Linked DNA regions of Homo sapiens. The protein of the gene in region 4 interacts with the protein of the main gene of each other region in a biochemical or structural test. Each region holds a gene or a part of one and is shown on either strand. Other genes may lie near its edges.

Region 1 (7,684 bases), on a different chromosome or scaffold from region 4:
GTGATGAGCGCGACTGCCCAGGTGGGCGGGGGCAGGTGTGTGGTGGGTGGTGGCCTGCGGTGAGCAGGGCCCTCACACCTGCCTCGCCCCCCAGGTGTGAAACGCCCCAGATGCCCTCTGAATTACTTCGCCTGCCCTAGTGGGCGCTGCATCCCCATGAGCTGGACGTGTGACAAAGAGGATGACTGTGAACATGGCGAGGACGAGACCCACTGCAGTGAGTGACCACTGCACCCACTCAGTGCTCCAAGAGCCTGCTGGGCCCCACTTCTTAGTCCCCCCCAGCAAATGCCCCCTTGGAAAAGGGCATCCAGAGCCTTCAACCCCCTGCCCCACACCCCAACTCTTGAGGTCAGACTCAGAGACTCTGCCTCTAGCTGCTGCTGAGCCCCCCCACAGAGGGGTGCTGTGGGCATCTCTCCTGTCCTTCCCATGGCATCAGCCTCCCCAGGTGGGTGACCCCCACCCTTCCCCATCTAACTGTGGCTTCTGACTGCCCCAGACAAGTTCTGCTCAGAGGCCCAGTTTGAGTGCCAGAACCATCGCTGCATCTCCAAGCAGTGGCTGTGTGACGGCAGCGATGACTGTGGGGATGGCTCAGACGAGGCTGCTCACTGTGGTAAGGAAGCTGGGATTGGGCCGGGGGAGGTGCCCCAGGGAGGGACAGACCCCACCCAACTCCACCCCACACACAGACACCCCTGCAGACGACGGCGAACCATCACCTCCACTGCTAGACCTGATCTACCCGCTCCTAAGTCTCTCAGTGGCCCTCTCTCCCCCTACAGAAGGCAAGACGTGCGGCCCCTCCTCCTTCTCCTGCCCTGGCACCCACGTGTGCGTCCCCGAGCGCTGGCTCTGTGACGGTGACAAAGACTGTGCTGATGGTGCAGACGAGAGCATCGCAGCTGGTTGCTGTGAGTGGCGGGGCCACGTGGAGCGGGTGGACAGCAAATGGCCACAGTCTCACTTTGCAGATGGGGAAGCCGGGGTGCAGGAGAGGAAATGCCTCAGCGGGGTCCACTGGGGGCGGAGCCATAGCTGTAGCCCAGGTGTCCAGACTCCTCATCCAGTGCCCTGCCCACTCTACCAGGAGAACCACAGGAGGTTAGAGTGAGGGACGGTCGGCCGCTGGCCAGGCAGGGCTGAAGGGCTGTGTCCACCTCTGTCCACAGTGTACAACAGCACTTGTGACGACCGTGAGTTCATGTGCCAGAACCGCCAGTGCATCCCCAAGCACTTCGTGTGTGACCACGACCGTGACTGTGCAGATGGCTCTGATGAGTCCCCCGAGTGTGGTGAGCCTTCGGCGGTGGTGGGAGGAGGCCCTGCCCTCTGCCGGGCCAGGGCATCAGCCTCACAGGTCCATTCCTCCCCCAGAGTACCCGACCTGCGGCCCCAGTGAGTTCCGCTGTGCCAATGGGCGCTGTCTGAGCTCCCGCCAGTGGGAGTGTGATGGCGAGAATGACTGCCACGACCAGAGTGACGAGGCTCCCAAGAACCCACACTGCACCAGCCAAGGTGGGCCCCAGACCTGGCTCCCCTCTGCCCCCTCCCCAGACTGCCTGAGACCCCGCTGACCTGCCGCCTCCGCCCCTCCGCAGAGCACAAGTGCAATGCCTCGTCACAGTTCCTGTGCAGCAGTGGGCGCTGTGTGGCTGAGGCACTGCTCTGCAACGGCCAGGATGACTGTGGCGACAGCTCGGACGAGCGTGGCTGCCACATCAATGAGTGTCTCAGCCGCAAGCTCAGTGGCTGCAGCCAGGACTGTGAGGACCTCAAGATCGGCTTCAAGGTATGCCCAGCCCTGGGGAGGAGCTTCCACACCCCAGACGTGCCAGGAACGCCTTTCTCCACTGCCTTATTCATTCATTCATCCCCTAGACAGTGGGGATACAGCAGTGAATGAGACAGAAATCTGCTTGGTTGGGGTCTGCCTCTATCTGGCAGGTAGAGAGCCAGCAGATTTGCTGACAGATGAGATATGCAGTGTGAGAGGAAGAGAGGAGTGAGGCATCAAGTAGGCAAGAGATACACAGGTCTGGAGTTCAAGGAGAGGCCCAGGCTGGAGAGGGAAGTCTGGGAGTTATCACCATAGAGATGCTATTTGAATCTGTGAGCCTGGATATGATTCCCAAGGGAGCAGTGTAGGTGGAGAAGAGAGGAGTCCAAAGTCTGAGCCCCGAGCTGAGCAACAGCCAGGAGCAGGGAAGTGAGGGGACCAGCAGAAGAGCCTGAGAAGGAGCAGCTGCTGAGGCAGGAGAACAGCCACGAGAAGAAAGCATTTCCATGGGGAGGGCACACGCAGCTCTGTCAAATGACACTCGGGGGCACACAGAAGGAGGCCTGCACTGTGGGCCAGCTGGGTGGGCTCAGTACCCATATGCTGCTGCCCCTAGTGAGGCCGGGTAGAGGGAATTGGAGTCTCTGAGCCAGGTCTCCAGGGTGGGAGGCCCAGACCCTGCCACATGCCCAGCCCAAGGCTCCCTGTGCCTGCAGTGCCGCTGTCGCCCTGGCTTCCGGCTGAAGGACGACGGCCGGACGTGTGCTGATGTGGACGAGTGCAGCACCACCTTCCCCTGCAGCCAGCGCTGCATCAACACTCATGGCAGCTATAAGTGTCTGTGTGTGGAGGGCTATGCACCCCGCGGCGGCGACCCCCACAGCTGCAAGGCTGTGACTGGTGAGATGCGCGCTTGGAGGGCATGAGGTGACCCAGGCTGTGTGGGACTGCCCGGGTGGCAGAGCTCCAGACAGGCAGGAGACCAGGGCCGCTAGAATGTGCCAGGAGCTGAGGCAAGATCCTCTGTCTGCAGACGAGGAACCGTTTCTGATCTTCGCCAACCGGTACTACCTGCGCAAGCTCAACCTGGACGGGTCCAACTACACGTTACTTAAGCAGGTACCAAACCCAGGCCCTCCTCCCCGCTGCCCATCTCCCAGACCCAGCACAGCCTCCCTTGCAAGTCTCCCCGCTTAGGTCCAACCATCCCTCCCCCAGATGCAAATGTGGCCCCTGTTGCCACAACCGACTTCTGCTGTCCTTCACTCCCCAAATCCAGGGCCTGAACAACGCCGTTGCCTTGGATTTTGACTACCGAGAGCAGATGATCTACTGGACAGATGTGACCACCCAGGGCAGCATGATCCGAAGGATGCACCTTAACGGGAGCAATGTGCAGGTGAGGCGGGCGGCCCTCGGCGACCAACACTGGCCCGCCTCAGATGACTGTTTTCAGATCGTCTCTCCTTCCCGCCCCACCAACCCAAATTGCTTCCTTCTCACTCCACTAGTCACTATATGACTGCTTGTTCTAGCTGCTCACTCTCCTCTGGGCCCAGACAGCAAGGACTGGGAGATTCCTCTTGCCCTTCCCCTCGCTGCCAGCCTCATGTCTCCTTAATCATCAGGAAGTTCCCTGTGAGGTCTGGCCAAGCACTGTGAGGCTTGGGGCGTGGTCCCATTCACCTAGAGCCCCCTCTCCTAGAGCCTCTGCTGACACCTACACAGTGTCAGGCCCAGGACTGGGCATTTTACTTCCATGGTTCTCCCACCAGAGCTGTCAGAGGGAGCTCTACCCCATTTTACACGAGGGGAGGCTGAGCCTCACAGAGGCTTGCAGGTCCTCCCCCAGGTCACCCAGAGCTCTCCCTCCCCTGCCCCTTCCTGCAGGTCCTACACCGTACAGGCCTCAGCAACCCCGATGGGCTGGCTGTGGACTGGGTGGGTGGCAACCTGTACTGGTGCGACAAAGGCCGGGACACCATCGAGGTGTCCAAGCTCAATGGGGCCTATCGGACGGTGCTGGTCAGCTCTGGCCTCCGTGAGCCCAGGGCTCTGGTGGTGGATGTGCAGAATGGGTATGTGGCTGAGGAGGGTTGGGGGAGCCCCTGAAAGCAGCATCCAAGCCCAGCCTCCCTGCAGGCCACTGGTGCGATGGGTTACGGGATCTCCCAGGGCTCACTGCCTACCCATCGCCAGGTACCTGTACTGGACAGACTGGGGTGACCATTCACTGATCGGCCGCATCGGCATGGATGGGTCCAGCCGCAGCGTCATCGTGGACACCAAGATCACATGGCCCAATGGCCTGACGCTGGACTATGTCACTGAGCGCATCTACTGGGCCGACGCCCGCGAGGACTACATTGAATTTGCCAGCCTGGATGGCTCCAATCGCCACGTTGGTCAGTGTGCCAGTGAGGCTGTCCAGGCACAGCAGACTCAGTGGGGATGGAGGTCTGAAGCGACAGGGGATCAAGTTTTGGGGGCAAGAGTGGACATAAAAAGCGGAGGATATGGCCTGAGGACACCACTCACTGGGGTGTGGGGTTCAGAGCACCCCGGGGGCTTCCCCAGCCTGGCCACCACCCAGCTCCCTTGGGAAGGAAGAGGAGAGGCCCTTCCCTTGTATACACAGTTCTGGAGGACTGGCCCCAAGGAGGGTGGGGGTGGGAGGCCTGCGATTGAGAACTGCAGTGCTCCCCACTTCCCGAGGGGAGCCATACACTGGCAGGGCAGGAACTTGCCATGAGGCAGTCTAGGTTTGAACTCCAGCTCTGACACTTGTTAGCTGTGAGACCATGGGGGGTCTGTACCATGAACCATCTGTAACTGGGGCTGACACCCACCTCTCAGGGTGGTGGTAGGGCTTGAGGAGGTGGAGTGGGCCGGCACCCTGTCCGAGCTCCGGCTGACTGGCACTGTGCCTGCCCCTTGGCCCTGCAGTGCTGAGCCAGGACATCCCGCACATCTTTGCACTGACCCTGTTTGAGGACTACGTCTACTGGACCGACTGGGAAACAAAGTCCATTAACCGAGCCCACAAGACCACGGGCACCAACAAAACGCTCCTCATCAGCACGCTGCACCGGCCCATGGACCTGCATGTCTTCCATGCCCTGCGCCAGCCAGACGGTGAGCAGGCAAGGGGTGGGAGCAGGCGAACGGTGAGCCAGGCACCGGGGTCCCTGGGAGTTCCTGCTCATCCCTTCTCTAGCATTGACCAAGCCCTCCTGGCCAGACACTGGGAGACTCCAGGAGGGTCTAGACAGGGGATGGTCTGGCTCCCGGGAGCTTCAGCCCGGCCTGGATCCAGCCCTGGAGTCTGGCAGCAGCAAGTCCCTGAGGCCAGTCAAGTGGGGGTCTGGGTGCCCAGCCCCCAGAAGGAAGGCAGGCCGGCCCCTGGGAGGGAAGCACAGAGGAGGTGGGGAGCTGGCCTTCAGGCCTGGCCTGATCCTGGGACCTTAGAATCCTCTCCTATCTCCAGCTTCAGCTCCCTCCTAAAAGAGGCAGGGTTCAGACCCACCCGCCTCTGTCCAGGATAGAGTGAGTGAGGCAGCCTTTGGTAGGCCAGAAAATGTCACCATATTTCACGACGTTTTCTCTGGCAGTGCCCAATCACCCCTGCAAGGTCAACAATGGTGGCTGCAGCAACCTGTGCCTGCTGTCCCCCGGGGGAGGGCACAAATGTGCCTGCCCCACCAACTTCTACCTGGGCAGCGATGGGCGCACCTGTGTGTCCAACTGCACGGCTAGCCAGGTGAGGCTGTCCCCCAGACCCCATCACCAGTGCCCGCTCCCCAACCCCCAAATCCTCCTTGGACCCCAACACCTGCTCTGTCCTAATGTCCTCATGCATCTGGTTTTCCCACACTAACACCCCCACATTTCTTGCCTACCTCTTGTCTCCCCACAGCAATACTTTTACCCCCGTCACCTCACACAGACACCTCCACACCCTAACCTTGACCCTCCTTGCCATGCTTCAGTGCTGCCTTCCCCACCCTATCCCACGCAGCCCCATACCTGGCCTTTCCGAACTCACCATAGCCCAACCTGCCCCATAACACCCTGACCCCTGCCTCAACTTCTTTGAAACATCCAAGCCCCTCAAAAGAAAGACTTCTGAGTCCCCCAGACCCCCACCAACCCCTCTTGCCCCCACCTGCCCTCCAGTTTGTATGCAAGAACGACAAGTGCATCCCCTTCTGGTGGAAGTGTGACACCGAGGACGACTGCGGGGACCACTCAGACGAGCCCCCGGACTGCCGTGAGTGCCTGCTGGGGGTGACAGGAGGGCCCCCAGCTGTGTCGGAGGCCTGACTCCTGAGGCTTTGAATGGCCACTGGAGAGGCTGGGGCTGTGGTGCCCTGCAAGTGGACCTGGCCGTGTCCACCCCAGCCGCTCTGACTCTGAGCCTCCCTCTCTGGCAGCTGAGTTCAAGTGCCGGCCCGGACAGTTCCAGTGCTCCACAGGTATCTGCACAAACCCTGCCTTCATCTGCGATGGCGACAATGACTGCCAGGACAACAGTGACGAGGCCAACTGTGGTAAGGCGCTGCCCGCCCACCCTCCCTCCTTCCCCAGCATCTTCCCTGCCCCAGGATTTGGGGCTTTCAAGTGCAGGGAAGTTGCAGCCCACGGCAGCTTGCTCTCCAGGCTGGATTCCTATGGCTCAAGCCTGTGTCCTCCCTGCTGAGGGATGGGCACCCTCTCCCTGCCCCTGAGTCCTCCCTTCGCCACGAATCACCTCCTCCTCCCTCCACAGACATCCACGTCTGCTTGCCCAGTCAGTTCAAATGCACCAACACCAACCGCTGTATTCCCGGCATCTTCCGCTGCAATGGGCAGGACAACTGCGGAGATGGGGAGGATGAGAGGGACTGCCGTGAGTGTCAGAGGTGGTGGTGGGCCGGTGGTGGGAGATGACACGGAAGCAGGGCAGGCAGAATCTCCCCACAGCTTTGAGAGGCTCTCAAATAACTTTAGTAGATGGGCAACACAAATTATATTGGGTGTAACTTGCTTTGCTCATAAAAATCATCATGCATGATATAGAGACATAGAGATCCAGAAAACAAAAAGCACCAAAACTGGGGATAAACTGTTCCTTCCTCCGAAGAAGTTGCTGGCAGGACCAAGGCCAGGGCTTGGAAGAGAGAGAAGACAGTGATGGTGAACTGGAGTGGCAGGTGTAAGGGAGGGCCCTCATTCTCTTGCCCACCCCACAGCCGAGGTGACCTGCGCCCCCAACCAGTTCCAGTGCTCCATTACCAAACGGTGCATCCCCCGGGTCTGGGTCTGCGACCGGGACAATGACTGTGTGGATGGCAGTGATGAGCCCGCCAACTGCAGTGAGTTGCCTGGCCTGGAGCCCAGCTTCCCTCCCCAGTGTCTGCTGCTCACACCACCCCGACGTGTGACCCCCTCAGTGGCTGCTCCCTCACTCTCCCCACCCTCCCGGCACACTCCTGGAAGGAGTCTCATCCTCACCCCATGCCCACCCGCTTGCAGCCCAGATGACCTGTGGTGTGGACGAGTTCCGCTGCAAGGATTCGGGCCGCTGCATCCCAGCGCGTTGGAAGTGTGACGGAGAGGATGACTGTGGGGATGGCTCGGATGAGCCCAAGGAAGAGTGTGGTGAGCCGAGACCCCACTCCAGGAGGAAGACAGTCTACCTGGGTGGGAGGCATGGCACCCCTGGCAGGTGGAGGGCTGGGGGCCGCCTGCTTACCGGTCTCAGCGTGGCCCTGCTGCTGGGCTTCCTGGGCCTGCTGTGGGGCTGGGGAAGGAGGCCTGGCTGGAGCTCACTTCCCCACATCCACCCGTGCCCCATGTCTCCCAGTTTCCCTATCCCTGCCCCTGCCCACGCCTCATCCACACATACCTGTGTGGAGTTTT
Region 2 (7,831 bases), on a different chromosome or scaffold from region 4:
CAGTAAATACACATTGAGGCACATGTAACTGTGATCTCAGACTTCTAGAGTCATAAAGATCCATTTGCACATCTGCTGACAACAGAAAAATTGTAAGAGAAGATTTTTTTGGTAGATAACATGAAAATTCATAATTCAAAAATCTGAGAACCTTAAATAGCAGTGTTTTACCCCATGTTCACTGTTTTAGAAATATACTTGTTATAGAAAAATAGTGTAAATATACTATCCATGAAATAAACATTATTGTAGAATCTTTAATACTTCAAAATAAAAATTAAAACCACCTACCCACCTGTTTCCATACAAAGTTAGTGTTAGCATCGTAATGAAACTGGTCAGCATGAATTTTGAGATTCTTGTGAGAAAATGTCATAAAAACCTGAGACTGCCTGGTAAACCATGAGAAGGAGATTGAGTGACTTGTACAATGCTGTTTCAAAAGAAGGGGGGAAAACTCTACTAATTTTAATAAGGCCTTAGGATAATTACATACATTTCATACACAAATTTACAGAAGAATAAATCTATTTTTATGTAGTTTTATACCTTTGGTTATACTAATCAAGCCTTGGTGATATTTTATACTTTTGGTTATATTAAATGATAACATTAACCAGGCATGGTTTTAGCACAAACCATAACTATTGTGCTAATTAGGTAACAGTACATGGGTTGATGAGTGAACTGGAAAATACTCCACCTGCCCAAAGAAGGGAATTCCCTGTCGAAAGTGTGAGTCCACTTTCACAAATGAGAGTTTGGTTATGGTTCTTGTGATTTCACTGGACTGCCTTCCAGTCAATTCCACCACTGAAAAAAGAGAAAAAAATCTGTTATTTTTGGGAAGAATGATGTCTCTAAAATTCTATCACCTCCCCCCAACTTACAATTCATTATTTGGCTAAGAAAATCAATGCCTGTTGTGTTTTCTCTTATACCCATGTAGTACACAAACCTGTTCCTTCTTCTTGGATCTGGGCCTCAGTGTGAAGTTTCATTTCATACTCCTTCCTCTTCAGCTGGAAGACCTTGGTTTTTACTTGCTGATAGAAGCAGCCATGGCTGTTTAGCTAAGAAGGGAGAAAATAAAATACAAAAATATAATGCATATTATACTAAATAGATCAGTGGTCAGATAACCGGTGTGATTTTTGTGGGGGGACAACATCATGTAGGCATTTTCTATGACGAGGACACAATAAATATTCTCTAGCAACTAAATATTAAATTTCACAACAATATCTCATGTATAATTGACAGATGTATTCCTTGGTATCTGAAATTCCCTAGATATATTGCGATAGAAATGTCTTAAAATTTGAGGAGTAATTTTTTTTGTACAAAGGATGCATAATATTTATACATATTTATGGGGTACACGAGATATTTTGTTACATGCAGAGAATGTGTAATGATCACATCGCGGGATTTAGGGTGCCTACCAACTCAAGTATGTATCATTTCTATGTGTTGGAAATAGTTCAAGTCCTGTCCACTTGCTATTTTGAAATACACAGTACATCTGCTCTTGACCATTAGAACTCCTCATCAAAGTCTGGTTCCTCCTCCATAATATTCAGCTGTGGCTGGGAAGCGGCCTTCTATATGGGGACTGTGTTTGTCAACTCTCTGGCATCTTGGTGGGGCCATGTGATAGGTTCTTGTTCACAGAGAGAGCAGAACTGATGGCCTGGCCAGCTAAGGCAATTAAGAGGTGTATGGTTTTTTCCTTCCTTTGTAGAAGTGAATGCCCATGGAGGCTTTAGATGGCTCAGTGTCTATCGTTCTGAAACACTCACAATGGGCAATTACGAGAAATAAATAATTCCCATTGTGCTAAGTTCATGATTTTTTTTGAAAAATTACAATAGCCAACATGGAATTCTCTTCTAGATTGTTCTCTTCCTGCGTCAGAAAAATGCTGCAACTCACTGCTTTTCAACAATGCCTTTATCGCTATTCTCTAGAAAAAATAGTGTTCAACCTACCTGTCCACTGAATTTCTCACAGAAAGCCTGTGAATCTTCACCGTGGCAGTCGGAAGCGTCACTATACTTTCTGCAAATGCTCACAGTCACATGTCCAGGGACAGGCTTCCCATATGTGTATCTGTCATGAGAACATTCCCAAAGGAATCAGAGCAGACACTGAACCTCCCCATTTTCTAGCTATTTATATCTCCCCTTTAGCTACAGTATATTCCCTGTCTGTACTTCCCTCTGCTCTCTGCTGGGCTCACACAATATTGAAGACAAGAGTCACTAATGGCTCTTATAGAAATCTCCATTGCAACATGCTGAAATTTACATTCTTCTTTTATCATTTCTTTTTTTTCCTCGTTTTTTTTTAGTTTTATCTTAAAAAAGTCTTTCTTATTATAAAACTTAAACCCGTTCTTAAAAGAGAAACAATACCAGCAAGACGAAACAAACAAAACAAAACAGAACAAAAAAAACCCAAACGCCCTCAAGTCTACCTAGGAATACAAACTATTAGTACGATAGTGTCTCTTCTTCCATCATCCTCTCCCCATGTGCAGCCATCTCTATATCGAGTTTCACTTGTTTATTTTATTTTATTTTATTTTATTTTATTTTATTTTATTTTTGAGATGGAGTCTCGCTCTGTCGCCCAGGCTGGAGTGCAGTGGTGCGATCTTGGCTCACTGCAACCTCCACCTCCTGGGTTCATGCCATTCTCCTGCCTCAGCTTCCCAAGTAGCTGGGACTACAGGCGCTGGCCACCATGCCTGGCTAATTTTTTGTATTTTTTAGTAGAGACGGGGTTTCACCATGTTAGCCAGGATGGTCTTGATCTCCTGACCTCGTGATCTGCCCACCTCAGCCTCCCAAAGTGCTGGGATTACAGGCGTGAGCCACCACGCCGGGCCTGTTTACTTTTTTACAAAAGTGGGATTGTGTCGTAAATATGTCATAGACAATTGCTGGGTTTCCAAGTGCATTTGTCTCCTTTCCTATTTGAGAATGTCCTCTGTATGTCTATTTGCAAGATCACACCAGTTATGAGGAACCAGGAACTTGGCCATCACTGTGAGACAGAACTGGAGCAGGGGCCTAGCTGAATAGTAGGTGTATTACATGTGTGATCTTTGGACAGGACTATACCTGCTCTTCCTGCTACTGCTACTGTGTGCCACCATGGATGGGAACATAAGATCCAGGAAACAAGACTTTTCAAGGTTGGAACAGACTGTCTTGAGAAATCACGTTCAGTCTCTTCGTAAAAATGTCAGTGCAGACAGGTATGTAGACCCGCCTTAGGTGGACTAGTGAGTTAGATGAGATTTCAGTTGTATGCCTATCTCTACAAATTCTGAATCTAAGTGATTTTTCCAGTAAGCATGCAAGGTCAGGTAAATGATCTGTTGATGATTGAATTTCCCCTATAGCCATGTGTTAATTATCTCCCTAATATACGTTTGGTTATTTTTGGTTAAGGCAGAACCAATACCCTTCAACACTATCCACCCTTCCCATTTTGTGTGTGTGTGTGTGTGCAGTTTTGTCACTTTCAGAATCAATCCTATTAGCATAACCTCTCTAGAAACAGTTTCTTACCTCATGATAGAATAATACTGATAAGAACGTGAAAGAAAATAAAAATAGAAAAGCAACAGGAGAATAACATTCTACAGATGAGGATGCTGTCAAAGCACTTAAAATTTTTGTGTTGCCACTGCTCCCGGAGAGAGTAGTTAAAATATCCCAAATGGTGAGTCTCTTTTAAATAATCCCCCACAAAAGATTTTTAAAAAATGAACTCACAGGCCACACACTGATACATTCATCTCTTCTTCCAAGATGGTGATTATCTTTGGCACTGTTACTTGTACTTCAAACTTGGGAAGAACTGTTGATTGGTGATAAAGAAGGTTGGTGATTGGTTTTCAACTTTGGGGGAATTCCTATTTTCAGGTTCCCTGTAACAGTTCCCTAATAATATTTTAGGGCTCTGAAAAGGTAGCTCTGCTCTCCAATCTATTCTTATCTATCCTCCTCTCAAATGAAGATTTCAGTTGAGGGACTATGAGAGATCACTGTGTGCTTAATTAATTATGGAAAACTCCATTAAAACAAGAATGTTTTAATTTTGGGGGTTGGTATTAAATATTGCTACAGAAAATAACGAAGCTATGTGAAGTCCTATTCACAGATCACTGATGTCCTCATTGGACTTAGGTGTAATTAATTCTACTCCAAGCCCAATGTCACCCATGGGAAATGGAAAGACTCCAAATGAACTTAAATTCCAGGACCTAAGAGTTTAAATATGAAGAAAAATAATGCTTGATGACTTTTCATGATCCATACCAAATTCCTCCACGGTGAAAGGGTGCTCTGTCCTTCCACCTGATTTCTTCTGTACCACCACCTTGTAGGAGCCCTGGAAGGGCTCTGATGAGAGGGGAAAAGAAAATTGCTTGAGGCCACCCTCTAACTGGAAACTCTGCCATTGTGCGATGCGATTTCCTTTGGGATCCTATATGAGTAAATTAATTATAACTTACAAAAGCACCTGGAGCATTGGAGCTAATAAAAGATATCTATGGAAACCCTAAGTTATCTACAAAAAGGTCAAATGGGGTAGTAGTAAAGGGTGAGTAGAGGAGATGAGTTATAGCCATCTAGCTCTATGGGAGTTTGAAGGCTTCTCCTTTAATGACAAGTTTCTGAGATATTGTAAAAACCTCTGAAATAAGAACATTTTCCCTATATGTATTGCTTTCCTTTTAATATGGAATGTTTCATGTTGCTTACCTGAATGTATACTAGTGGAATCTGAAAGACAAAAGAAAAAAGAAGTTTATAATTATTTTCAAATATTCTTAAATCTCATTTATAAGCAAAGCAGCTAGTATTTGCTAGCATAACAGGGTGAGTATAGTAAAAAATAATTTAATTGTACATTTAAAAATAACTAAAAGTATAATTGGATTTGTTCGTAACACAAAGAATAAATGTTTGAGGGGATGGGTACTCCATTTATTGATACAGGCATGCAATGCATGATAATAATCATTATCCATGATTGGATAATGATATGGATAATGATAATGATTATCATCCATAATCATTATCATGCACTGCATGCCTGTATCAAAATATCTCATGTAACCCATAAATATATATACCTGCTATGTTTCCACAAAAATTAAAAACAATAAAAAGTTTAAAAAATCTAAATTAGTTTCATATAGAATAATTCCCTCTATAGTGAAATACAGAAATATTCCAGATTAAATTTTATAGAACTTTTCATTAATCTATTTTAAGCAATTAATAAATAATGTTAAGAACTTACTAGGCCTTCAGCAACAAATATACATGTAAAGTGCCATTTACTAAAAATGGATTAACATGTCTTAAGTGCTTATAGCATCCTAGTGAAGATCAATCCTTTGCTATGCAATTTTACAGGTTGAGAAATAAACACTTATGTAACTATAAGTAAATATGTTCAGATGTAATCATTAAGATGGGTCATAGAATTCTTACGTAGTTCTAAGAATGAGGAGGAATGGACATATTTCATTAATAAATTTAGTTTAATAAATATTACTTTTAAAAATGAATAAACATTGATAAGAAGCTACTATGAATGTTTATTCATTTTTAAAAACTAATCTTTATTAAGTACCTTCTCATGCGCTGTGTATCATTCTAGGTATTGAGAATATAACCACGCACAAAAGAACAATAAACCATGTTTTAATGGAGCTTATGTTATAATAGAAATAGGCAGATTTTTAAAAATCAATACGTATAGAATGGTGGTAAGTGCAAATAGAAAAACAAAGCCAAGTTAGGCTGACAGAGTGATGGGTGTGGTGCCTCATTTTAGACAGAGGAGTGAAAGTAGAAGCTGGGAGACCACTTTGAAGGTTATTGTAATGATCTTATTTAGAGATGACATTGACTAGGACTAGCTTGCAGCAGTAGTTCAGATGATAAGAAATAGTCTGAATATATTTTAAGCCAACATGATTTTCCAGTGAAGTGGATGTGGGTATGAGAGAAAGAGAAACAAGAACTAGGCCATAATCTTTTGTCTTTGGAGCTAGAAGAGAAGAGTTGCCTCTTTTTGAGATAAGAAAATGTGAAGAAGTTAATTTGGGAGAGAAAAATGAAGACTTTGGGTTGATGTCTGCATTACAATAGAAAGAACTGTTTCTTATCACAGATACCAAGAGTTAGTCTTGAGGAACAAATTAATTACCCTGACTTTCCTTTATAGTGAAGATTTTGGTAGATGTGTATAGAAAAAATCTAAATCTTTAAAATGTTTTTTGAGCTTAGGTTCTTTGAGGATTTTTCTGTGTCTGCTATTGAATGTATCTTTCTAATTGTCCTAATTAAGAACCATCCGAAAAGTAAATTTAATTGTGTGACAACTGACTGAGTACCAGCACCAAGACAGAAAGAATTACCTACTTTCTTTACCTGGAATGATGTTTTAGATTAGGATCTTGTGCTGTTGTAATGCCAGAAGTTACTGTTAATGATACCAGATTCTTCCTCTCCCTGGTCTTCCCTCAGCACAAAAAACAGGTTCCCAGCCTGTTTATACAGACAATCATTTTATGTAGATAATAGAAAACTCACCAACTCATTCAGGGGGTGAAAGTTTTCATCCATGGAGACAACACGAAATTTCACTGAAACAGAAATATTTTTCATGAGCCCCCAAACCCAAAGTAGGCCTGTAGGCTGGTAAGACAAGCTATTAAGGAACCAAGATTATAGGAACTTTGCCTGGGGAACATCCAGGGGAAGAAGATCTTTCCTTTTTGAAGTTGTCCTGTCTGTAGGCTTCTTCATACCTGTCTGCCCTGGTTTGTAGATTGATTTGTCTGTCTGGACAAAGACCAGACTGTCCTCGTTCTTAACCATCACTGTGGTCCGCTTCTTAAATTCTTGGGTTGGTCCTTTCACTTGGACAGTGAGGAACATTACCTCCTCATTGGATGAAGACTTTGGGACCTGAAATACAGGACCGATCCTGAAACCCCATTCAGCACCCGCAGGTCTCCTCCCCTATTTGCTGTTGCACTCTTCCCTGGAGATCTTGCCCTTCTTACTTAACTTCACTCCCTTGTTCTCAGCAGGGAAAGTTGGCATGGACAGGAATCACTTCTGCCATTTTACAAATGGGGAGACAGGACACAAGGTGGAGGAAAATAAATCAGTAAGAGAGGTTGTAAGTGAGATTCACACCTTCATACAGCTCACAGAAACAGTCTTGATTCAATTATACGCTGAGCTTTACCAGGCTGATATTACATGCTAAAAGGGCATGGTCGAAGCATGTTTTACAGGCTATGGAAAAAAACCCCGTATTTTACTGACACTAGGCTGTAAGCATCTCACATGTGGACAACTCTGAAGAGATATTACACCTTTGCTCAGGGTAATTTCTACAATTTTTACTCTTAGAAGTAGTGTGGAGTGATGTGTTCCTGTCAGTCCACCACGGGTGGCTCATGTTGAGCCTTGGTCTAGTTTGCTTTATTAATATTTTTTCCATCTTAATTTTAAGAAGTCACATTTTCTTTTTTTTTTTTTCCTTTCTGGCTAATAGGGTTTCTATGTGATTATTAAGCTGACTTTTAGTTTGCCTGTAAATATTTGTCTCCCATGGCTGGAGAGTCATGCATTGCTCCTTAATTTCTATACTTAGTTTGCTACATTTGGATTCCTTCCTGCAGTTCTTACCAACCTCCCAAAGCCTCATCTGACAGAATACTAGATCCCTATGACCCTGACTAAAAGAACCAAGTATATTAAGTCAAACAGCCACACTCACAGCG
Region 3 (7,831 bases), on a different chromosome or scaffold from region 4:
AACTAGCCTGAGTTCTTACACTGCAGTTTGGGTAGATGAAAGTGGTCTTGGATCATATTGCCACCTGTATTAGTTTCCTGTGGCTGTTGTAACAAATTTAGTGGCTTAAAAGAACAGACATTTATTCTCTTGTAGTTCTGGAGTTTAGAGTCCACAATCAAAAGGTCAGCAGGCCTCTACTCCCCTGGGGCTCTAGGGGAGAATTCATTCTTTGCTTCTTCCATCTTCCTGAAGTTCCAGGTGTTCTTTGGCTTGGGCTGCATAACTCCAATTTTGGCTTCTGTCTTCACATGGCCTTCTCCTCACTGCATGCTACTCATCTTTGTGTCTTTTATAATGATACTTGTCATTGGATTTAGAGCCCACCCTGATAATCCAAGATGATCTCAACTCAAGACCCTTGATTTATAAGTGCAAAGATACTTTTCCCACATAAGGTCACATTCATAGCTCCAGGGAATAGGAAGTGGTCATATCTTATTGCAGGTTACCATTCAATGCAGTGTACCGTCTTAGTCACTCTCTTCTTCAGTGGTCCTTAAACTTTAGGAACTATGAACCCCTTTGAATAATCTGATAAAATATATGTGATTTTTATTTATAGATGAGTACTTATGTGCCATTAAGCACCTTTTTGTTTGTTTAAAATTTAAGCAGATTCATACTTCACCACCACTACCAAAGCCCAAACATGTGCTGTAGATTCAAACACTCAGTCTATATCCTTCTTGAATGGTAACAGTCAAAAGCAACCACAATTTTCCTGGTGATCTGGTTAATGTAGAAAAAAACAGGTTATTGCCTCTTTGGTTCTAGACAATACATATAATTCTGTTAATGCATTTCAAGATCACGTTAAATATTTTATGTCTCCCTGAAGTGTTCACATTGTGTGTGGAAACTCTTAAGCTGCTATTATTATTACTATTAAACCTGAAAAGTACCAAGCCCCATTTCTTTTATCTGGTACTTATGTAATTACCATGGAGAGGATCTAGCTAACATTTCTCTAGGTGACATCACACCTTATTAAATTAAGCCTGTCTCTTTAGTCTGTCACGACCTTATTGAGTCTTGCTTCTGCCATCGAGCATATTGAGGGCTTCCTCCAGCTTTATGTCATCAAAAAATTCAATTTCCAATGATGACCATTATTTTCATGTCTTCAAGTCGTTAATAAAAATGATGAACAAGAAAGAGCAGACAACAGAACCTTGCAGCGGACTACTCACACCTCCCTCTTGGTTGATTTTAATGTCTTCATTAGGTACTGTTCAGCCACATAATTTTACCAAGCACCTGGCTCATATTTTCTCAATCTTTTTGTCAAGATTCCTATGACAGACCCTGTTCAAATGCCATGCTGGTATCCAGGTAAATCATGTGCTTCACATTTTCCTCTTCTGTCTGCCTAGTAACCTTTTAATAGAAAGGAATGTGATTAATCTGACATGACGTTTTTTGTGATCCAGGAAGTAAATTTGAACTATGTGGAGTCAACAGAAATATATGGTTTAGCATCATTAACATCCTGCACTAGTAAGTCTTCCAATCAGGGAAGACTTACTGCTGGAAGTGGTATCTGAATGCGAGAGTTTTGAAGGCTGGATAGAGAAAAAAAAGATATCCATCAAGGTCTCCTCCCACTGTTTTTGTTTGTTTGTTTCGTTTTCCCTTGATGAGGCTTATCAGTTTAACTGTCCTCTCTTCAAACAAGCAAAAATGTTTGATAAGAGAGAGCTGTTTTGTTAAAGATTTAAAATGGACTGACCGCTATGTAAAATGAATTTAGAGCTAAGAAATGGAAATACCTTAGTGGATGACCTGGCATTGATGAATTGGATTTGGAAACCACTGGATTTACCAAGACTACAAGAGAACAGAGAGAACCCAGGGAGAGGGAGTTAGGTTTGCTTTGCTCCACAGTGTCAGCTGCATATGTTGGGTATTCTAGGCTCAGAGTTTCTCCTACCCCATGCTGAGCTTAGATCCACACAAAACCCATGTAGTTTTACTAAAGGAGAGATCCTGTCTCTCTTTCAAAGTCTGCTTAATTTTCTTTTAGATAAGCCTCTTAAAGGTTTTATTTAACTTTTATCTGAAGCACATTCAAAATTGATCCTGAGATGTATTGTAAATTGGATGATCCACAAAAGCAACTCTATATTCTTCCTCATTTCACAAGTTTTGTCAGTCTCTACCTTTCCCATAAGCATCCTCATCTTTTAGAGAGCATAAGAAAATGACCCAGGAAGAGAGTTAATCTTGTAGGTGTCACCATAACAGTATCTGAACTTGGGCAGAGGAGAATCCAGGGCTGGTAGTGTGATTAAGTCTTGCTGAAATGGAAGCCATCCAATTCCTTGAAAGACCTCAGTTGTTTTAAGTTCGCAGCATGATCGGTCTCCCCTTTACATCACTATGATAGATGTCTTGCATTGTAATTGCAAGACACGCCACCCGAGTAGAGTATGGATGATCAGTCTTTTTTTTTTTTCCATTTTTCTAGAAACAATTGATCATTCATATTTATAGGGCAATCAACTGCTGGGCTTTGAAAAGGTCAGTATTGATTATCTAAGTCACAGATGGTGTGCTTCTTTACTATACATAAATATGAGTTCCTTTTATGAGTCTGCTGTGATTCTTTTTTCTTTTTAAGGAAGGAGGAGGGAGGGTAGGTAGGTATTCATGTGCGTTAAACAATGGAATTTCAACTAACACTTAAATTCAACTAGGACTTTGCAGTTGGCAAAGTTGTACTTTAAATTAGCAAATTCATTCCTTCTACCCCAACACATATACTTACAATCCACTTTACAGATGAGGAAACTGAGTCCCTGTCCATGGACATGGGTAGGCAAAATGCCAGTGCTTGCATTAAGGAGAAATGGGAAGGCTGTGTATCTAAATCTGAACAGGGGTTTTATATGGGTGTTGAGTTTGGGACTACCGGTCCCAATTTTTTTTCTTTACTGGGCTTTTTATATTTTAAATGCTTCCTGTAATAGGCATATATTACTTTTGCAATTTAAAAAATGGTTGATTTAAAACCCACTGTGAATGACATGCCAGTTGATTGAATTGTATGGATAGTGGACTTTCTCCTTAATGGCCCTCAAGGAACTCACTTTGGAAGAATAACTAAAGTCCAGGCTGCAGTGAATCTCTATCTCCTTCCTAGTTTCTGTGCATTAGTGACTGACTATGGGACTTTCTCCCCTTGTGTCTCCCACTCCTCCCCTAAACACTTAGAGTTTTTGGCCACTTCAGCCTCCGCTCCGAATGGCAATTGGTGAAAGTGGACTACAAATCTATCTTCAGCCGGCATTGCACCAAGGAGGACTATCAGACCTGGCACCTGCTCAATCAGGTACACACCCCAGGGAGTTGGAGTGCTGGCTTTGAGGAGGAGGAGCTAGTGCAAGTCCGACTGGGTCTTATCTGAGCCTTCCTATTTAGGGGAGGAAGGTAGTGGGTCATCTGAGGATGTGGGTGTGGATTTGGAGAAAAGGGTGAAACACACTCAGGTCCAGTAGGGCCAGATGATATTTAGGAACTATCTCGCACCCTGGGATCCTATCTACTAATTGAGGTCACTGAGCTGCCTGGGGGAAAGGTGTTGATGATAACCTGGGGTTTTAGCTCTATCCATGGAGAAATGAGCTTTTTACAGCTAGAAGGCCTCCAAGAGTTGCTCATTTTATCTGCCAATGTGGAGGGCGAGAGCATTTCTCAGACTAGCCTGAAATAAGGGACCCAGAGCACTGGGAACAGGTCCACTGAGAAATGGTGTCAGGGTGGGTAGGTCTAGCAATGGTAGATATTTACTGCTGTGAGAAATAGGCAGACTTCTGCTCCAGAACCACTGGGTCCTTGTAATTTGTATCAACTTCTCCTTTCTTTGTTCTTGACTGGGAATTAAGATTTGGGCATGGTCGTTTATCATAGAGAAGGAACATTTTGGGTCAACTTCAATTTCCCTCTGAAGACCATGTGAAAAATGTGCCATAAATGGGCTCCTTTCCACTAGAATTGCTACTGAAGCCATTTGGGCAAATGTACCTGGTGGTCTGCAAAGATGCCTGGAGTCCTTACATTCTCTATGGAGGTGGAGCAGAAACGGGATGATGTAGACATCACTGGCTTGGGTGGGTGGAGGGTAGAAGTGGGCCCACCTTCCATAATGTTCCTTTTATGTGGTAGTGAAAGATTAGCACTTTTATTCTTGAAACTCCTGGATCATTACTGAGAATGAGACTGCTACATAAAGTACCTAAATGAGAATGAACAGGCTAATGCTTCTTGTTGACAACTGGTTTATTTCACCACCTTTTTGTTTTTCTGTCTCTCACACTATGGAATTTCTCTCTAAGGGAGAGCCTTGTGTCATGGGAGAAAGGAAAATATTCAAGAAACGTAAGCCAGGAGCTCAGTGTGCCCTGGGCCGAGACCACTCAGGATCAGTGGTCTCAGAACCCTGTGTCTGTGCCAATTGGGACTTCGAGTGGTGAGTTGTTTGGCATTTCATTACCAATTCCAACCAGGTCTTCACCTGTCTGTGGGGTGGGGTGGGGTGAAGATGAAGTTAGGAGAGGAAGCATGACGCAGAGATAGGAGGTGTATCTGCTGGCCTGTGGGCCCATCCATCCCAGTTACTGGGCCAGATGGGAAGTCTGCATTCCTGGAAGGAGGACAGGCTGAGGCATTTTCACAGAGAGAGTCACTGATCTATCAGAGCAGCATCTCTCAGGGGGCTTCTTCTCATCTACACTGAGCAGCTGTATTGGAAACTACTGGAGAAGTTGTGCTGGGCATTGACAGAGGTTAGAGAGCTACTGCCTTGCTGTTGCCTCCAGCCACATGCACTCTCACTGTGCTCTTCTACGTGACCTCTCTCTTGTTTCCTTTTTCTCCCCCTAATAACAGCAATGGAGAACAACCTTAAATCTCACTTAATGAAATTCAAATCTCACCTATAGACAATTACTCCCAAATTTCCAAATATTTACCTCTGGCCCTGGCCTCCCCCTTCTCTTGGTTGGACACATATGTGTCTGGCTGTCTACTCAGCATTCATCTCCTCTTGATTCACTATCAGGGTTATCAAACTTAAGGCAGCCAAAGCAAAGCTTTTCTTGAATCCCCTTCATTGGAAGGAGTCCCTTGCCCAGTTTTTCTAATTTCAATAAAACACACAGCTATCCACTCAGTTGCCAGAAGGGTTTGGTTTCTCCTTTTCTTTCACTGTCAGATCCAGGCCATCTGCAAGTCCTTGCAGTTTCTACCCTCAAAACACATTCTAAGTCAAATCACTTCTTTCCATCTCTCAGCTGTTTGTATCACTCCAGGAATCGAACTCTCTCCACATCCACCCTTGTCACTTAAAATTCATTCTCCTCACAGCAACCGAGATGGTATTTTAAAAACTCAAACCATATCTTATCACTACTACACTTAGAATACTCCAATATCTTCCCCCTCACTTAAAATCTAATCTTCTTTCCTTAGTTTCCTCCATTGTAGGTGATTTAGCCCTGCAATTACCTTTATGTCAAAATTCCTTACTGTTCTTACCTCATTCACTGTATTGCAACCGCATTACCACCTCCTGCACCTTTATTAATCCTGGCTCATTCCTAGCAGAGGGAGCAGAAAATGCAAGAATTTCTTCCAAATCTTAGTATGGCCGGCACCTTTGAGTCACTCATGTCTCAGCAAAAATATCAGCTTCTCAGAAATGCCTTCTGAGACCACCTAATCTCACCTATACCCTGGCACAGTCTAGTATATCCCTGTTTTATTATCTCCTTAGTATTAATTGCCGTACAAAATGAACATGTTTTTGATTGTTCCACTATCACCTATCTCTCCAGTAGAATGTAAGTGCTGGGAATGCAGGAGTTTTAGACTTTCCTTGTTTCTGCATCCACAGCGCCTGGCCCGCTGTAAACATTCAATAAAGAGTTGTAGCATGTTTCTGAACATTGTTCCTTTTAGGAGGGTCAAAAATCTCCCCAATTCTGGGAATGGGTACATAGCACTCCGATCCCAGCTGGATGAATTCTTCCCCTGCATCACAATAAAAAGCTAAAGTTCAATTTGATTATTTTGGTAGCCCATCTCAGCTTTGTCTTTGTTAAAAGACAAAACTAAGGGCTTGGGCATTGGCCTCTAAACTTGGGAGGGGCAGGGCAATGATGGAGCTGCATTTGGGCTTCTCTGGCATCAGATAGTCAAAGTAAGTCCAAGTGGGCACAGAGCAGCTGCCCCTGAATGGCAGCCTCACTTCTTCCAGCCTCATTTCATCCAGCTGGTTTTTTAGCTTGATTTGTACTAGAAACTATCCTTTGTTTCCCACTTTCTGCTAGGAATATAACTGGAAGCCAGAGGAGTGACTCTGCTCTCCACCTGTTCTTTATCCTTAAACTCATACCTAGGAAAGCATGGCTTCAGTGAAATTCATGAAAATGAGATATACTAAGTGTAATTTAAGTTTGACTAGCAGAGTCCTTTCTGTGACCATTTTGAGCCCTTGGCAGCAAAGTATATTTTCACATTGTGAAAAATATTTTCAATTATTAATCACAATTAAGCAAAAATAGTCACAGCAATGAGTGCAGTAGGCCACTCAAAATTATGGCTTGTGACATATTGATGTCAACCTGAATATTCAGAATATTAATTTTAGGCTTCCTTGTGTCCTTCTGCAGACTAACTCCATTGAGGCACACTGTCTTTGAATTTGTCATGATACATATTCTCCTGTGTCTCTGTGTGCCATAATAGACCCTCACCCATTGTTGGGTAGCATCACAAGTGAGAAGAAATAAGAACTGTAAAATATTTTCTCATCAGTAATTCCATTAACATTTACTGGTCTGGGCAAAAATTCTAGCACTGATAGTCACAGTTTTTGACCTTGGCAAGTTTTCTTAATCTTTGTGACTTCATCTCTATAGCTGCAAAATAAAAATACATGACATCTACCGCATTGGGTCCTAAGGAAGAATAAATGAATTCATATATTAATATACATCATTAATATAGATAAGGCATTTATCCTACTGATGTATAACATAGAAATACAACATAGGCTAGCTATTGCTGCTGCTGTTGATGCTGTTGTTATTCTTACACCCTAGGGTTAAGTGGTCCCTATGGTATTTTTGGAAGTAAACCAAAGCTTATACATCCAAATAAGCACTGTTTTCAGAGTAGGATCTTGGGGTCTGATCCATTTACTTCAGTACTGGTGGCATTGCTCAAAGTATTTCTGAACCCTTCTTTAGGGAGTGCTGTCAGAATCCATCTATAAGTAAAGCACGGTGGGAGAGGCGAGGGGGAGCCTTTACACGGCCTTCTGTGGTTCTCATACTTGCACTGGTAGAGGTACCATGTGGATCCAAGACGCTGTAATGTCAGGATCTTTATTATTGCCTTTTAATGAGAAGAAACATCTTGGATATAGGTTACTTGATCAAGGTTACATCCCTGGGAGAGAATGAGCTGGGGTTCAAGTGCAGATTTAGTTAAATTCCACATTCTCTCCTCTACACCCTGCCATTTCTCAAGAAATCAAACAAGTCTTTATTATTTTAGATTCATTTTGCTTCAGAAAAAAATAAAGTTTCCAAGTTTACTTACTCTAAAATTAAAACTCATCCCCAAGGACTTGGGTTTACTGCTGTTGATGAAATATAAGGTAGAATGTTTCCTCAACACTAAAACAATTTCCAATGAAGTAGTTTTGACCATTGGTACTAGAATCATAATAGGTGTATGGTCTCCAAAAATATTTTATAGAATTTTTTTTGATATATAATGTGGT
Region 4 (7,831 bases):
AAAATCCCAGAACTCAAGGAAATGGAATTTGTCCTATTGGCACATGCCTCCCCACTGTGTAGGGCACAGGGAATGTGGTGAGGTACAGTCTAATGCCAGCTCTCCCCCTCCACAGAGTTTTGGCCAGTGGTCGTGCAGTCCAAGGGGCTGGATGGCATGCTGGACCCAAGCTCAGCTCAGCGTCCGGACCCAATAACAGTTTTACCAAGGGAGCAGCTTTCTATCCTGGCCACACTGAGGTAAGTGCCTAAGGGACCTTGGCCTTGCCAAGGTCCTCCCTCTGCAGCTGCCAGAAGCAGGAGTCCCAAGTGACAGGACCTGAGAGGGCAAGTCAGAACCAACTGCTGAGCAGCAGGGGCCTAGAGAAGCTTTCAGTGGTGCAGCAAATGCAGCTCCCCTAGCCCACTCAGGAAAGGAAATCTTTTGTGCATGCAGGTTGGCCCCATGGGCCCCAGGGACATATCAGGAGTCTGAGCTGCATCAAGGGTCTAAAGTTGCCGAACACAGGACCTCGAATAGACAGCGTCAGTCAGACCCTCCACACAACTCTCTGGTCCGACTGAGCAGGGAACTTGCAAAATGGAAGGTTCACAGCCACTCTTTGTGCCCTTCACCAGTGGAGTAGAGGGGTAGGGAAGAGTTCCAAATCTGCACACAGGAGGTGTGGCTCCGAGTTCCACTTCTGTTTGCTGTGTACCTGTGATGCAATTACTTAATCTTACTACATCTCTGGTTTCTCATTGTTAAAATAGGAATAATATGGCCAACCTCCCAGGTTTGTGTAATGGTTAATTAGAAAATTATACCCAATAAATAATAATTACTATTATCTCAGCTCATTCATGTCAAGGTATGTCTTTTAGAATTCAGATCAGTAGATTTGGTTCCCATTAATGTATCCAGCACAGCTGCCCTCCGAGAGCCCAGTGACCCCACAGGCGCTGGTACCTGCTAGTGTTTTCTGGTTGCATATTTCTATCATGGGCATTTCAAGTGCTTTTAGATCAAGTCTACACGGTGCCCAGAAACCTAACAAAGCAGATATGAAAACAATTCAATATCTAAATATTCCCTAATATCTGGATTTATGGCATCAGGAAGGTAAAACTTACAATCTGTTGAATGGAATTTTCATTTCGATGTTGGGGGATGAGTATACTCACCCCACCACCTATCAGTTACAGTGTGCATACGGCTTCAGGCCTCTCTCCTCTAAAAGATAGCAAAGCTGAGCTCAAGTCAGGTGTTCACGGACTGGCCCTGCCACTCACTGGCTGCAAAAGCCCAAGTCACTTAGCCTCTCCAAGGCTCATTTTTGTCTTCTACAAAGTTAAAGAATTAGGCTAGACTCGTGGCTCTCAAAATATGGTCCCCAGACCAACAGCATCAGCATCATCTGGAAACTTACTAGAAATGTAGATTCTTAGTGTCCTCCTACCAGACCTACAGAATCGAGCATTCTGGAGATGGGGCCCAGCAGTCTATAGTGTAACAAACTCTCCAGGTGATTCTGATGCCCTGAAGTTTGAGAGCCTCTGGACTTGAATCTCTGATGTACCTTCTAGGCCATGCCTCCTCCCAATAAATCCTGTCCTAACAGAAGCTCTGGATTTTACTCTGTCGATGCCTCTCTCTGTTCAGCCCACCCCAGGACACCTCTGAAGTACCTTGCTGGAGAAATGAGGAGCCACAGAATTCCTCCCACACTCCACACCAGCTCCAACCCCCAAGAGTATTCGAGCCTTTACAACTGAAGACAGCAGCCAGTTAACATTTAGAGTGAAGGCCAAGCGTAAAACAAGAAATGACCCTTGGCCCACTCTCAGAATGTGGCGAATGAGATGGAGGAGGAGGAGGCTGGATTTCCTTGGCCACAAGAATTTCCTCTCTCACCAACTGTTAGTGACCCTGGTTCACGTATCCCATCTCTAGCCCAAGAATCACTCGTGGCTCTTGGCATGGCTGTCTCTAAGACAGGAATTCTCTCACTCCCTTCTACAACACATCTCCCCAGGCATGGTTGCCAAGCCTCCCAGTGCCATCAGCCCTCCTAACCACAAATATTTGGGCCAGTTGCTTAGCTCTGTTCAGCAGCTCCATCACCTATTCAGGTGAGGCCAGAATCTTTGAAGATCATTCACCTCGTGCGAGAAATTTATCCTATTATTGGAGTGTGTGAACCATTGGAAATCCACAGAATGTATCGCTGGTTCAGAAGAGGGCAAGAGGGCAGGGCAGCCCATCAGTGGCTGGTTGTAAAGGCATCCCAATGGGCTGCCCCACTCTTAGTCATGGATCTTCCATTCTAGGTAGGAGTAGGACAATTAAAGAGCATTCTCATATTAAATAGAACATGTTCGTTCATGTGAGCCCCTAACTGCATCCTCCTCAGCTGATCATTCAGCTTGCAGAGCTCTGCTTAATAAAGCCAGACAGAAAGCTGTCATCTGTTCAGGAGAAAGGCTTCAAAGGGTGTTTTTAAAAAATAAATAAATAAAACTTCTCCCCTGGTTCACATCAACCAAAAATAAAAAGAATGTTCTTTTCTAAATGGTGCATTATATCACTAGAATAGAAAATGCACTCAATTTTTCTTTTATCTACTGATCACTTTTAAGAGAGTTTTTTTTTAAACTTAAAAGTTTATAGGAACACACTCTCATGAGTAAATTAAATATTTTTTTAAAAAAACTTTAAACCTAAAATCTAAATGAGAGATATATTTGAGACATTTTCAAGTCTTAATGAAACATTCTGCCTGTGATACAAATCTCCATTGTGATTAAATGTGATACCATTTGGTATCTTGACTGTGAGTGGAAAAGTAGTGTTAGAGTGTAGGAACTTTGTGAAGTCAGTTCAGTCAAACCAGCAGATGCAAGGCAGGGTAGAAAACTTCATAATTACCTGAAATGAAAGAATATAATGGTTGGAAGATACCTTTAACATCATCATGCAGATGGAGAATTAAGGAACACTGGAGGCAGGAGACTTGTCTACATACTCACAGTTTCTTAGAGGAGGAGTTACCTAGGAGTTCTAGGTCACCTGGGGGCAACAAAGATGAGTAGGACACTTTGCTGCCTACAGGGAGTTTGTCCTCTAGAAGGGAGGATAAAAGAATACAACAGCCCTAAGAGAATATAAAGGGAAGGCTTTAAGAGATAGAGAAGGGGCAGGGCGTGGTGGCTTACGCCTATAATCCCAACACTTTGGGAGGCCGAGGGGGCGGATCACGAGATCAGAGATCAAGACCATCCTGGCCAACATGGTGAAACCCCGCCTCTGCAAAAAATAGAAAAATTAGCCAGGCGTGGCGGCGTGTGCCTGTAGTCCCAGCTACTCAGGAGGCTGAGGCAGGAGACTTGTTTGAACCCAGGAGGCAAAGGCTGCAGTGAGCCGAGATCAAGCCACTGCACTTCAGCCTGGGTGACAGAGCGAGACTCCATCTCAAAAAAAAAAAAAAAAAAAAAAAAAAAGATGAGAGAAGGTAGTTTGTCTCAGAATTAGAAAAAGCTCCCCAGGGGAAGCAGCATTGAAGTTGTTGAAGGACAACAGGAAGGATTCCACCAGCAGAGGTGGAGAGCAGAAAAGGCCCTGAGAGGGTAGGGGAGCATACCTGGAAGGGAAGAGTCTGAAAAAGGGCAGTGGTGGGGAAGCTCAAGCAGGAACTGCCCCCAGGAGTTTTGTGCACTCGGAATGCAAACTATGTGAGGGGAGTAGAAGGAGGCAGGATCCCATTGCCAGGCAGAGCAGTCCCTACTGGCTTACAGACAAGGGACTTGGCACCAGCTCCTTTGAGCAGGGTGATATGATCAGAGCAGGCTTTAAGAAGCTAAATGGGGTGGCCAGGGATAGGAGGAATTGGAAGAAGAGAGATGAGGGTCCAGGATATCAGGTGGGAGACTGTTCCCATGACCTGAACTAGGGGCCCAGAGATGAGAATGGAAGATAAAATACAGTTTCAAGATAATGCTACCAAACCAGAACCAAAAGGGCTGGATGGAGGTCAGGGAGGAAAAAGCAGAGGGATAAGCAGAGGTATGGAGCTAGTGGATGAATGAATGATGGTTCCAGTAACAGAAAAAGGAAACTGTGAAGAAGCGTGTTTAGGGAGATGAGGAGAGAGGATCAAGAGAGATGGTAGCTGTGAAACTATCATCAAATGGTCCAAAATGGGGCTGTTGCTATTGTATGCAGAGAAGGAAGATGGGGAGAAGATGATCCTAATTATGATTATGAGTATGAAGATTTTTGTTTTGGATGTCTTGCATTTAAAATGCCAGTATCTATGGAGAATTGCCCTCAGGAAGCAGGAGGGCAGAACTAGCTTCAAAAGACTAGTTGATTCGAGATCCAGGTATGGGAGTCAATTGCACAGAAATTTCGATGGGCTCCTTAGAAGAGGAGGAGCCCACCAAAGGAGAGACCAAGAATGAAGTGGGAACCTCTGGTAATGGGGAATAGGGAGAGGTATGTCCCTTATGTCCATCGAAACCCTTTTATTTAGTTAATTTCATTTTCCTCTTGAAATTCTAGCAAGTGTTACTAATTTGGATATAAGGGAATGAATTTCAGTTTTCTTTCTTCTCCTTTAATGTATCTGATAAGAGATATTATGTACCGAGAAGAACAAAGAAGTGAAACATGAAAAGGAGCAAAAGTAAAAGGTTTAGATTTGCTGCCAACTGAATATTCAGTCCGCTAAGAGTTGACCGGACATTTATCTGCAAGACCATTAGCCAACAGATCTGGTAATGGTCAAAACCCCAGATATGCCATTGCCTCCTTTGCATGGTCAGCTGGAGAACTGGAGCAAACAGAAACATTCTTCAAAGAAACCAAAGAGAAAAGAATTTGGTGATTTCCTTCTTGGTATCTCACCAAAGAGCTGTCTATTTCCAGCTGAATAAAAGCACAGTATGGAGGAGAAGAATGTGTTGCCTTAAAACAGATTAGAAAAGCAGTGTGTAGCCATATGCACAAAGGCCAAAAGAAACCACACACTGTGATGGAAAGAAGGCAGATGGTGAGCTTCTCTTGCCACTCTCATTCATTCTTTCTTTCATTCATTCTCCTTAAATTTTTTGAGTACCTACTACATGCCAGACACGGCAACTGGCCCTGGAAATATTGAAATGCAAATTGTGCAGCTTGCAAAGCCCTCTCAGGGAGACAGACAAGTTAATGATTATCCACAACCCTAGGAGAGGTGATAGGGTTATGCACAAACTGCTGTGGAATACAAGGGATGGAGTGCCCAGATACACAAGTGGATGAGACACGGCTCCACCCTCGAGTATCTCACAGTCAGGGTGAGACAATAAAAATGGCTTTGAAGGAGGTCTGAGAGAGGTAAAACCAGCAGTAGAAAGCACAAAAGACAAAGTCCTTGACCACAAGGAGACAGAAATAACTCATGATTTACACAAATTTTGTGAGAACCTACTTCATCCTAACAACTACTCTGGGAGATAGTGTTTTTTGCCCACCTCCGATCAATGGGAACGCTAAGGCTCTGGGAAATTAAATGGGTTTCTTCTGCTAACAAGTAGTGGAGTAGGAATCCAAACACGATTTTCTAACCCCCAGACCCAATGCAGAGTTCTTGTCATTACACTGATTTAGTAGGAGAGAACACACACACTCACACTCACATGAACACACACATATGCACATACAATTACGCTATTCTGAAGTGCAGAATGGCAAAAGATCATTTTTGATTGGAGTGATCTGAGAAGGCTTCGAGGACTAGGTCGTATCTGTGTGGAAACGGAGCAGAATGACCCATAAGAGTGGGAAGGAGAGATGGGAGAAAGGATAGAATTGGAAGTTTGTAGAGCACTCTTACAAGAGATATTTCTGATCCTACCAGGAAGATCTATGGAAGCTTTACAGAGGAGCTGACGTTTGCTACACATCTACAAGTATGCATAGGAGCTCCGCGGAGGCCAGTGAGAGGCCCTCCAGGAGCAGAACTAATTCCACAATTACTTGACCAAGTTGGGGGATTATTTGTGGGGTAACTGCAGTGCAGTATGGAGTCCTCTTGGGGACAGTTAGAGCCATACCATTTGATCTATAGTCACATAAGAACAAACAATAAAAAGAAAAGACATGCTTAAGAGTGAAAGAGAAAGGGAGGGAGAAAAGAAGGAAGGGTGGATGGAAGGACACTAGCTTAGTAAGGGGTCAACTTTGGATTCTATTTCTGGTTCAGTTTTCATTTGTGACTTCAGTGCTTTAGTGTTAGTTCATTTTCTGTGAATCAGTTTCCTTATATGTGAAATAAATATGATAAATCCTAATTGAACTCACAGACTCATGAGAAGATAGAAGTGAACACATTTTAAAAACATCACACAAAGAGGAACTATTATGTGGTCCACATTTATATATGTGGGGTAGCGTCTGAAGAGGTGCCTGGACTAAGATGGTCCCAGAGCCACAAGGTTTTTGCCAAACATGACGCTTTGTGAATTCATAACAAGGGCTCCGAGTCACCAGATCTTAGAGCTGACCCAGTGCACTGTCTGAAAGGGGGTACCCAGTTCTGAGGCTTCAAGACATGTCCCCAGCAGATCTTCCCCGTGCCTTCCCAGAGGATTCAAAACTGTTGAGCAGGACGGCACCATCACATCAAGGCACAAGTGCCAGGGAGAGATGTTAAACTCTCCCCACCGGCCTCCCTGGTACACACATGGACACTTACCACCTCCCTCAGCCGCCTTAAGCTTCAGAGAACTCAAAGGACTCTGTAAGTGATGTCTCCAAGCTCATATCGAACTACTGGGCAAAATTTCAGGGGCTCTGTCACTTCCTGGAGAAGCTCGGATGGGGTGACCACACATCCATACTGCCTGAGTCAGCCCCGGGTTACGCCTGTTGTCCCGGTATAACCATTGCTAGCACACCCTTTCCCTCTCAGAAGTGCCCCGGTTTGAATGAAACCTCTTCGTGATCCCCTTGGGAGGTCAACTCTGAGGGACCCAGAAACTGCCTTTTGACTGCATTTAGTACTCCATGAAGTCACCCTCATTTCTTTTTCATTCCAGGTGCATAGCGTAATGTCCATGTTGTTCTACACTCTGATCACAGCTTTTCTGATCGGCATACAGGCGGAACCACACTCAGAGAGCAATGTCCCTGCAGGACACACCATCCCCCAAGCCCACTGGACTAAACTTCAGCATTCCCTTGACACTGCCCTTCGCAGAGCCCGCAGCGCCCCGGCAGCGGCGATAGCTGCACGCGTGGCGGGGCAGACCCGCAACATTACTGTGGACCCCAGGCTGTTTAAAAAGCGGCGACTCCGTTCACCCCGTGTGCTGTTTAGCACCCAGCCTCCCCGTGAAGCTGCAGACACTCAGGATCTGGACTTCGAGGTCGGTGGTGCTGCCCCCTTCAACAGGACTCACAGGAGCAAGCGGTCATCATCCCATCCCATCTTCCACAGGGGCGAATTCTCGGTGTGTGACAGTGTCAGCGTGTGGGTTGGGGATAAGACCACCGCCACAGACATCAAGGGCAAGGAGGTGATGGTGTTGGGAGAGGTGAACATTAACAACAGTGTATTCAAACAGTACTTTTTTGAGACCAAGTGCCGGGACCCAAATCCCGTTGACAGCGGGTGCCGGGGCATTGACTCAAAGCACTGGAACTCATATTGTACCACGACTCACACCTTTGTCAAGGCGCTGACCATGGATGGCAAGCAGGCTGCCTGGCGGTTTATCCGGATAGATACGGCCTGTGTGTGTGTGCTCAGCAGGAAGGCTGTGAGAAGAGCCTGACCTGCCGACACGCTCCCTCCCCCTGCCCCTTCTAC

Evidence for each region.
Region 1: the proteins of NGF (region 4) and LRP1 form a complex in vitro, tested with the Homo sapiens proteins (one study listed by BioGRID).
Region 2: the proteins of NGF (region 4) and A2M form a complex in vitro, tested with the Homo sapiens proteins (one study listed by BioGRID).
Region 3: the proteins of NGF (region 4) and SORCS3 interact in a biophysical measurement, tested with the Homo sapiens proteins (one study listed by IntAct).

Annotation. Positions count from the first base shown.
Region 1 is NC_000012.12:57,194,483-57,202,166, forward strand, and holds part of LRP1 (prolow-density lipoprotein receptor-related protein 1 preproprotein), read left to right. Parts: coding exon 1-21; exon of another isoform or gene 22-94; coding exon 95-217; intron 218-502; coding exon 503-619; intron 620-788; coding exon 789-917; intron 918-1,175; coding exon 1,176-1,298; intron 1,299-1,380; coding exon 1,381-1,521; intron 1,522-1,604; coding exon 1,605-1,795; intron 1,796-2,499; coding exon 2,500-2,683; intron 2,684-2,816; coding exon 2,817-2,902; intron 2,903-3,062; coding exon 3,063-3,182; intron 3,183-3,673; coding exon 3,674-3,861; intron 3,862-3,982; coding exon 3,983-4,188; intron 4,189-4,729; coding exon 4,730-4,918; intron 4,919-5,394; coding exon 5,395-5,543; intron 5,544-5,959; coding exon 5,960-6,053; intron 6,054-6,216; coding exon 6,217-6,333; intron 6,334-6,551; coding exon 6,552-6,671; intron 6,672-7,014; coding exon 7,015-7,137; intron 7,138-7,297; coding exon 7,298-7,423; intron 7,424-7,684. UniProt on the Homo sapiens protein: Endocytic receptor involved in endocytosis and in phagocytosis of apoptotic cells. Required for early embryonic development. Involved in cellular lipid homeostasis.
Region 2 is NC_000012.12:9,105,533-9,113,363, forward strand, and holds part of A2M (alpha-2-macroglobulin isoform a precursor), read right to left. Parts: coding exon 7,828-7,831; intron 7,158-7,827; exon of another isoform or gene 7,005-7,157; coding exon 6,845-7,004; intron 6,680-6,844; coding exon 6,627-6,679; intron 4,803-6,626; coding exon 4,782-4,802; intron 4,504-4,781; coding exon 4,335-4,503; intron 3,874-4,334; coding exon 3,789-3,873; intron 2,113-3,788; coding exon 1,992-2,112; intron 1,074-1,991; coding exon 959-1,073; intron 814-958; coding exon 704-813; intron 1-703. UniProt on the Homo sapiens protein: Is able to inhibit all four classes of proteinases by a unique 'trapping' mechanism. This protein has a peptide stretch, called the 'bait region' which contains specific cleavage sites for different proteinases.
Region 3 is NC_000010.11:105,196,744-105,204,574, forward strand, and holds part of SORCS3 (VPS10 domain-containing receptor SorCS3 precursor), read left to right. Parts: intron 1-3,255; coding exon 3,256-3,373; intron 3,374-4,376; coding exon 4,377-4,510; intron 4,511-7,831. UniProt on the Homo sapiens protein: Plays an important role in modulating synaptic transmission and plasticity in the hippocampus, probably by affecting the trafficking and localization ofAMPA-type glutamate receptors in the postsynaptic density.
Region 4 is NC_000001.11:115,286,035-115,293,865, reverse strand, and holds part of NGF (beta-nerve growth factor precursor), read left to right. Parts: intron 1-115; coding exon of another isoform or gene 116-239; intron 240-7,058; coding exon of another isoform or gene 7,059-7,070; coding exon 7,071-7,796; 3' UTR 7,797-7,831. UniProt on the Homo sapiens protein: Nerve growth factor is important for the development and maintenance of the sympathetic and sensory nervous systems.